Linked DNA regions of Homo sapiens: all the other regions are linked to region 1. The links come from fine-mapping of genetic effects on gene expression. A gene starts in region 1. Each other region holds a variant in brackets. All regions are shown on one strand. Distances are between the middles of the regions.

Region 1 (2,768 bases):
TCTATATTTAGGTTTTTAAGGAATCTCTATACTGTTCTTCACAGTGCTGTACTAACATACATTCCTACCAACAGTGTACGAGTGTTTCTCTTTCTCCACATCTTTATCAGCATTCATTATTGCCTGTATTTTGGATAAAAGCCATTTCAACTGGGATGAGATTATACCTCATCCTAGTTTTGATATGCATTTCTCTGATGATTAGTGATGTTAAGCATTTTTTCATATCCCTGTTGGCCATTTGTATGTCTTTTTTGAGAAATAACCATTCAGGTCTTTTGCTCAATTTTAATTGGATTATTTTCCTATTATATTGTTTGAGCTCCTTATATATTATGGCTATTAATTCTGTGATAGATGAGTAGTTTGCAAGTATTTTCCCCCACTTGATGGGTTGTCTCTTCACTTTGTTGTTTGCTTTGCAGAAGGTTCTTAGCTTGGCATGATCCCATTTGTCCATTTTTGCTTTGCTTGCCTATGCTTTTAAGGTCTTACTAAGAAATATTTGGTTCTGGAGCATTTCCCTAACGTTTTCTTCTAGTAGTTTCAATAGTTTCAAATCTTAGATTCCAGTCTTCAAGCCATTTTGTTTTGATTTTTTTAATATGGCAAAAGATAGTGATCTGTTTCATTCTTCTACATATAGTTATCTAGTTTTTCCAGAACAATTTTTGGAAGAGACCATCCTTTTCCCAACGTATGTTCTTGGCAGCTTTGTCAGAAATTAGTTGACTGTATATGTATTGATTTATTTATAGGTCCTCTATTCTGTTCCGTTAGTCTATGTGTCTGTTTTTATGCCAGCACCATGCTGTTTTGTTTACTATCACTTTGTAGTATAATTTGAAGTCAGGTAATGTGATGCCTCCAGCTTTATTCTTTTGCTCAGGATTGCTTTGGCTATTCTTGGTCTTATTGTGGTTCCATATAAATTTTAGGATTTTTTTCCTCTTTCTGTGAAGAATGTCATTGATATTTTGATAGGGATTACATTGAATCTGTAGATTGCTCTGGGTAGTATGGAAATTTTAACAATATTGATTCTTCCAATCCATGAACATGGAATATATTTCCATTTTTGTGTGTCCTCTTCAATTTCTTTCATCACTGGAAAGATCTCTACAATAAAAACAAAAGTAAATTTCTTCGTGGTACAAGTAAGTCTTTTAAGATAAGAAATTTTAAGATTCCTCCCAAGCAATACTGAAAATTTCCAAAAGGCAGTTATTATCTCTGTTATATTAATCATTATATCCAGAGCCCAACGTGTAGCAAACAGAAGACCCTCTATAATATAGGTTGACTGAATAAATGAACCTCTATATTTTATGGAATTAGTTTGAGGTTTTTATGTTACTTTCATCCCTATAGAGCCATAAAATGAATTTTTTGGTGGGGGCACACAAAATTGCACCACGACAGCTTTTTTCTTTAAAACAAGCACAAGAATAAAGCTAAACGCAAATATTCACCGCACTGGAAAGCACTGCGCGTGCGCTATCTTACGCTATTGGCTAACACCGCAACTCTCAAAGACCCTCGCAAGAGAATCACCTTTGCGCTTGCTCAGTTGTGGACTCCACAAACAGAGGGCGGGTTCCAAAGAAAAGGAAATAGTCATTGCGCCTGCGCCGCTCCTTCTGGGGGGAGGGGGGGGCTTGGGCTGGCTGCGCAGGCGCACAGGTACCATTTTGACCGTAAACATCCTGCCGATTTGAACCGAGGATTTGGGCGGCAGGAAGAGCCGCGGCGTAACGGCAGCCATCTTGTTTGTTTGAGTGAATCGGAAAGGAGGCGCCGGCTGTGGCGGCGGCGGGAGCTGCTCGGAAGCTACACCTCGCAAGGGCTCCCCCCTTTCCCCACCCCCTCCCCCGACCCTTTTCCCCTCCCCGGGCCACCCAGCCCGCCCAACTCCCAGCGGAGAGCAAGGTAAGAGACTCGGCCGACCCCTTCTTTTCCTCCAGCTCCCTCCCCCCACCCTTTCCCCGCCGCTCTGCCGTCGGGGAGCCGGACTCCTGGGGGCGGGAGGGCGAGGGAGAAGGCAGCCCTCGCCGCGCCCACGCGTGCTGCCACCCTCCCGGCGCCCAAGCGGCGGCGCCACCCGCCCAGCCCCCTTCGCCCCGGGCCCGCCCTCGGCCCGGACCCATGCAGCTTGGGCCCGCATCATCGCTTGTTCGGTAACAAATGATTCTGATCCATTCTGAGATCTACAAAGGCTGTTACCCTGCAGGTCCATCTCACGTCCCCCAGGAGGCCGGGGAAACCCTGGGCTGCGGAGGGAGGGGAGGAGGTTTGAACGAGCCCGCTCTGGGGACCGGGCCGCCTACTCCGCGGGTAAAAATGGCTGTCTGGGAGGAGGCGGTGGCGGGCCCGGCGCCCGCGGTGCCAGCCCCGGGAGCAGCAACCTTCCGCCGAACTCGGGTGCGGGGCTCAAGAAAGTGCGGAGCTGGTGGGGCTGGGCGGGGTGGGGCGGGGGGTCGGCGGGTGCCCCTCGGCCAGTGACTGCTGCTGCCCTCCCGTTTTAAAAAGATAATTTTTACGTTGGGAATGCTGAATATTTCACAGACGCGTGGAAAAAGAGACGGAGGGAAGTTGCTTCTTTTTCCAAGGATATTTGCATAATTGGTTTTCCCCTGAACTTTTCTGATCATTCTTTAAAGTGATTAAGGATATCGGGTGTTGTAGAGACGCTCTGGGGGAGGTGTGTGTTTCTGATAAATGCTTGATGCCCTTTTCGTCGCTGAAAAAGGCTTTTTGCGAATGATCCG
Region 2 (2,768 bases), 56 kb before region 1:
CCAGGCATGGTGGTGGGCGCCTGTAGTCCCAGCTACTCGGGAGGCTGAGGCAGGAGAATGGCGTAAAGCTGGTAGGCAGAGCCTGCAGTGAGCCGAGATCACGCCACTGCAGTCCAGCCTGGGCGACAGAACCAGACTCCGTCTCAAAAAAAAAAAAAAAAAAAAAAAATGCTATGCAGGCCGGGCGTGGTGGCTCATGCCTGTAATCCCAGCACTTTGGGGGACCAAGGCAGGTGGATCACCTGAGGTCAGGAGTTCCAGACCTGCCTGACCAACATGGTGAAACCCCGCCTCTACTAAAAATACAAAATTAGCCAGGTGTGGTGGTGCATGTCTGTAATCCCAGCTACTTGGGAGGCTGAGGACGGAGAATCGCTTGAACCTGGCACGTGGAGGTTGCAGTGAGCTGAGATCATGGCATTGCACTTCAACTCAGGCAACAAGAGTGAAACTCCATCAAAAAAAAAGAGGGAATGCTATGCAGTCGTCTAAACATATCAGGCAGTGAATTAAAATACAATCTGAAAGTTCAGATTCATTTGTTTTCACTTTCTATTGATTTTCATTTCTCTTTGGGCTTTAGTTTTAGGTATTACATACATAGGTAAAATATAAATATTTATGCCATTCATTAACCTGCATTTTTTTTCTTGTGTCTTGACTGGGTCCCAAATTTACATCTTTTAAATAGGTATGATCCAGAAACCTGGCAGCTATGTGCTGCAAGACTGCCTTTCTGTTGAATCACTCCTCTTTGGCATAGACACCAATGTGAACAATAGAAGAGATTCACCTGACTTGGAAATCTCAGCCAAAATGCTGTGGGCTTGGTAGAAAATATACCTAAATGCATCCCTTGTGAATTATTGGTAAATGCAGGAAGCCATTTGAAACCTTCAGTTACATAATACCAATCACATAATGGTTCCATTGTTTCACCAAAACAACAGACTCTCAAATATTTATATGAGTTGATTTTTTAGGAAATACCAACTATATCTGCACCATATATCTGCAAATATATCTGTACAACAACATTTTCAAAATGTTCCTTTACCATTTATCAAAAAGGGTTGAGGAACCCCAAAAGATAAGATTCTCTCCTTAAAACTCTGAATAGAAATGGAAACATACCTCCTATCTTTTTGATTGAACTCTTCATAGAATCCATCTGATTGAGAAGTGAAATCAAATTATACAGATCCTAAACAAGATTTTAACCATAAAGTGTTATCTCTTCTATCAACATAACATTAAAATTAAATTGAAATTAAATAAAATTAACATTAAATGTTAAAAATGTAACATTAAGTTTCTAGTAAGAAAAAACAAGGTGATATTTAACCACAACTTACCCACTAATGCTCAAATATCAACAAAACTAAGTGGGGTTATTGGGA[G/A]CACATAGGCTTTCTCCACTGGATTGAAAAAGACTATTACTTCTGTCAGGAGACCACTTCTACCTGACCTGTATCAAGTTGATCAAAAAAGAATCAGAATTTCTAGAAGGATTTTATTACTCATTATTTTATCTCCTTTCTATTGAATAGAAAAATGAAGGTCATTGCTTCTTGCATCTTATTTACACACCAATATTACTTTTTATGAGATCCTTCTATAACTCTATAAAGAAGAATTAACAGTCATAACAACATTAACAACCTCCAGTAGACACAGAATAGAAAAACATTTGAAAAATTATGATGCATAAAAGAGAGGAAAAGAGCCAGATATTTTAAATGATCATGAAGATGAGAAGAAACAGTTGGTACTTCAACTTAATGGTTTGTTGTTTTAGGGAAAACACTAGGGTTATCATGTGGAGACTTAGTTTCTGTGTAATATTGAAACAGCCTAACATCTAAAATCATGTGCACCAATTCACACTGCTTTTGATGTACCTAGAATTAAGGAACATTCATTCATTCAATATTCATTCATTCAAGAAGAATTTTGGGAAGCCAGGTGCAGTGGCTGCACCTGTAGTCCCAGCTACTCAGGAGGCTGAGACAGGAGAATTGCTTGAGCTCAGGAGTTTGAGGCAGTAGTGCACAATGATCACACCTGTGAATAGCCACTGCATTCCAACCTGGACAACCTAGTAAGACCCCATCTTTTTAAAAAAAAAAGTATTTTGGAGTACCTATCATCTGCCAGGCACTATGCTAAATACTGGTATGAACACTGTTTTTATTACTGTTGCCTTTTTTACATTAATTTGATTGTCCTTTCTTAGTTTATTTCATTTCACCCTTTCAAATTCACATTCAGTGAAAAACAAATGAGTTTCCCAGTCTTGAAAAGTACTAATATTGAAAATTAGCATACATGACTGAAACCATTCCATTAATAAGACAATAGCAATACTATCTCTCTTGCTTTAAATCAATTTAATGATTAGATGCTAAAATTTTCACAGGGACGTAGCTTGTTGGTTGAGTGATGACTCTCTTTGACTACAGGAATACTCACATTTCTTAGCACAGGTTCAGTGCTTAAGCGTGAACTACAAGATGAAGAGAGTACCTGCAGTGAATTGTACTTGTTAGTTACTTCAGTTTTAGTTTAGTGTAAAACAATATAGACACCTGTTTTTCAAAAAACTTTTTTTAATTACAGAAAAATCCTAGATGAAAATAACAAATTGTAGGGGCACAGGGATCCCGTTCACCTTCTGAAGGTTCCCTGAAAATAAAGTGACAAAAGACCGATTAATAGGAGAAAAGCATACAAATTTATTAATGTACAGGGGGAAAAAAATCACAGAG
Region 3 (2,768 bases), 27 kb before region 1:
CTTTTTTGGTTGTTTTGTTGCCAGATTCAAATATGACATTGAAGGCCCCCTTTTAGCTCTAAAATGCAAAAAGAAAATTCCTATTACCAATAAATTTTGACCACTTTTCCAAGCAGCCATGCCATCAATGGAACCACTGTTCCAGGAGCTGAGACAATATCTTGGATTGACTTTTACTTATACTTCCCCACCCTCATTTGAATCAAGTCCATTAAAATGATTCTAACACTTTCATGCCTTCACTGGCTGAGTCCTATAAATGAAATAATATATACATACCAGTTAACAGAGTAACTGACACATAGTAAGTACTCGAGAAAAAAAAATAGTTGCTTGCTCTCAACACCAAAATGATTTTAATTCCTAACTGAATAGCTCTGCTTATGCTGTTCACCACATCCGGAATCCCTCATTCATTTTTTTCTTCCACCCACTGAAAACTAGTCCATTCATCAAGAATCAACTTTAATTCTACTTCCTCCTCTACTTCCTCTACTTCATACTCTTTTCTGCATTCTTTGAAAAAGAACATGGTTTTTAGTACTATAGGTTTTGTTATCTAGTAGCACAGAAAAGAGCTACTGTATAGTAAGCAATTAGAAAATAAGCCATGAAGCACTTTAAGAACAGACTCAGTTCTAAATCCTCTCTTTTATTTCCAAAATATTGATGGTTTCTGTGAGACCTCAGTTCTTGTCTCCTTAGTTTAAAAGAATTTAAATAAGAGCACCTGGCAAAGAAGGTGCAGCATACAGTGATTTATTGCAAAAGAAAAAGAATATTTTGAAAGGTAGGTACAGAATAGACAGGACACCCTGAGAGAGAGAGGATTCAGGGTGGGCTGCCCATAAGGATGAGCCAGCAAAGACTGGCACTAGGGAGACTCCCTTTATGGGAGTTTTACATAATAATTCATAAGAAGGTGGGAAGAGGCGTTACTAGTAGGTATGTTCTGGGTGGTCCTCTGGGTGCACATGCACAGTAGCTGCACATGCTTGTTCATGCATCGTGTGTCTCATTAGCATCTGAAATCTCCACCCAGGAGTGTATTTTTCACTATTGAAATGAGCAAAGCGCCAATTTGAGGACTGGTAAAATCCAAGTGCACATGCTCTCTAGAAGGAAAAGTCCCCACCGCAGATAGCTTTGCTTGAATGAGCTCAATTATACTGCGAACGCTGAGGCCTGTGTTGGTTGTATGGCCACCACGATCACTGC[G/T]TCCTGGCAACATGGTCACTTCCTTGACTACCTATCCTGCCTCAAATGCACATAACCCATTGATAGACCCATAGCAATGCAATAAACACCTGTCGACTAACTTTCAGATTATGATCTGATTATAAAAATAAGAGTTACAGTCTCTGTCCTCGTGCATCTTACAATCTAGCAAAGAAAATATATATTAAACTAATAATTATTACAAACAGTTGTTCTCTATGTTTCTGTGCAGTGAGATGTCTCCTTCACATTTCAAGATTAGATCAATTTTTTTCTTTTTTCTTTCTTTCTTGCTTTCTTTCGTTCTTTCATTCTTTCTTTTTTCAGGGTCTCTACCTCTATACAGCATGCAGAGCTGTTGCCAAGTCTAGCCTCAAACTACTGGGCTCAAGCAATGCTGAGTAGCTGGAACTACAGACATGCACCACCACACCCAGCTAATTTTTAAAATTGTTTCACTCTTCTGACTCCAACTTAGTGGTTCTCAGCCCTGAATAATTTTGCCCCCAGGAGATATTTAGCAATGTCTAGAGACATTTTTGGTTATTACATCAGGGCAGGGCAGGGGTGGAGGGCTGAGGGGAGATGTTACTGGCATCTAGCACGTAAATACCAGGATTACTGCTAATAAACATCCTAGGCGGAAGATAGCATCCCACAACAGAAAATTGTCCACCCCTAATGACAATGCAAAGGTTAAGAAATCCTTTTTTAAGACTGCTCTCTTAGACACGTCTTTGGCATAGTTTTCTCCTCAACCCACCACCATGTATTCCTTCTAATCCCTAGGCTAGTATATGCTTATAATTACAAAGTAATAATTTTTGCAATTTTGTGGGGTTTTTATTGAGATAAAATATACATATAAAATTTACCATTCTTACCATTTTTAAGTGTACAATTAAGTGATAATGGCTCCATTTATATTCTTTTTTTCCCTTCAAACCCTTCTCCCTCCCACTCTTCCTGGCCTTTGGTAACCAACAATCTTCTATCTTCATGAGATCCACTCTTTTAGTTCTCACATATGAGTGAGAACATGTGATATTTGTCCTTCTGTGCTTGGCTTATTTCACTTAACATAATAGCCTCTAGTTCCAACCATGTTGCAAATGGCAGGATTTCATTGTTTGTTATGGCTGAATAATTATGTGTATATTCTACATTTTCTTTATTCATTCATCCATCCATTGGCACTTAGGTTGATTCCATATTTTGGCTATTGTGAATAGTGCTGCAATTAATGTGGGAATGCAGATATCTCTTTGATATATTGATCTCCTTTTTCTTGTATATATACTCAGTATTAGAATTGCTGGTAGTTCTGTTTTTAGTTTTTGCGGAAGCTCCATACTGTTGTCTATATTGGCTGTACTAGTTTACATTCCCACCAAGAGTGTACAAGGGTTCCCCTTTCTCCACATCTTTACCAGCATTTGTTATTGCCTTTTTGATACAAACCATTTTAACTGGAATGAGATGATATTTCATTGTGATTTTGATTTGCATTTCTCTGATGATTAGTGATGATGTATTAATTCATTTTCACA

Direction of the effects. Alleles are on the strand shown, and positions count from the first base shown. SD is a standard deviation of normalised expression in the study named.
With allele G in place of A in region 2, the expression in fibroblasts of the gene that starts at base 1,764 in region 1 is higher (small effect, 0.10 SD a copy in GTEx).
For the expression in subcutaneous fat of the gene that starts at base 1,764 in region 1, allele T in region 3 goes with a lower level than allele G (small effect, 0.24 SD a copy in FUSION).

The links. PIP is the estimated chance that this variant, and not a neighbour inherited with it, causes the effect. A credible set is the group of variants that fine-mapping cannot tell apart.
Region 2: its variant is the best candidate, but not a certain one, in a credible set for the expression of RAD21 in fibroblasts (GTEx, PIP 0.52).
Region 3: its variant is the best candidate, but not a certain one, in a credible set for the expression of RAD21 in subcutaneous fat (FUSION, PIP 0.51).

What each region holds. Positions count from the first base shown.
Region 1 is chr8:116,873,772-116,876,539 of GRCh38, reverse strand. RAD21 (RAD21 cohesin complex component) reads left to right here and starts at 1,764. Exons shown (of 14, transcript NM_006265.3): 1 at 1,764-1,929. It overlaps RAD21-AS1 (RAD21 antisense RNA 1), which reads right to left and starts at 2,116. Exons shown (of 2, transcript NR_033886.1): 1 at 1,555-2,116; 2 at 1-1,119. MIR3610 (microRNA 3610) reads left to right here and starts at 1,740; the gene lies at 1,740-1,812. RefSeq lists an enhancer at 1,767-1,816 and silencers at 1,927-2,246, 2,407-2,456.
Region 2 is chr8:116,929,441-116,932,208 of GRCh38, reverse strand. No RefSeq gene overlaps it. Among named protein-coding and RNA genes, the nearest start is that of AARD, 7.4 kb to the left of the region's middle. The variant G/A (reference allele first, on the strand shown) is at 1,401.
Region 3 is chr8:116,900,312-116,903,079 of GRCh38, reverse strand. No RefSeq gene overlaps it. Among named protein-coding and RNA genes, the nearest start is that of MIR3610, 27 kb to the right of the region's middle. RefSeq lists enhancers at 1,074-1,153, 1,204-1,293. The variant G/T (reference allele first, on the strand shown) is at 1,219.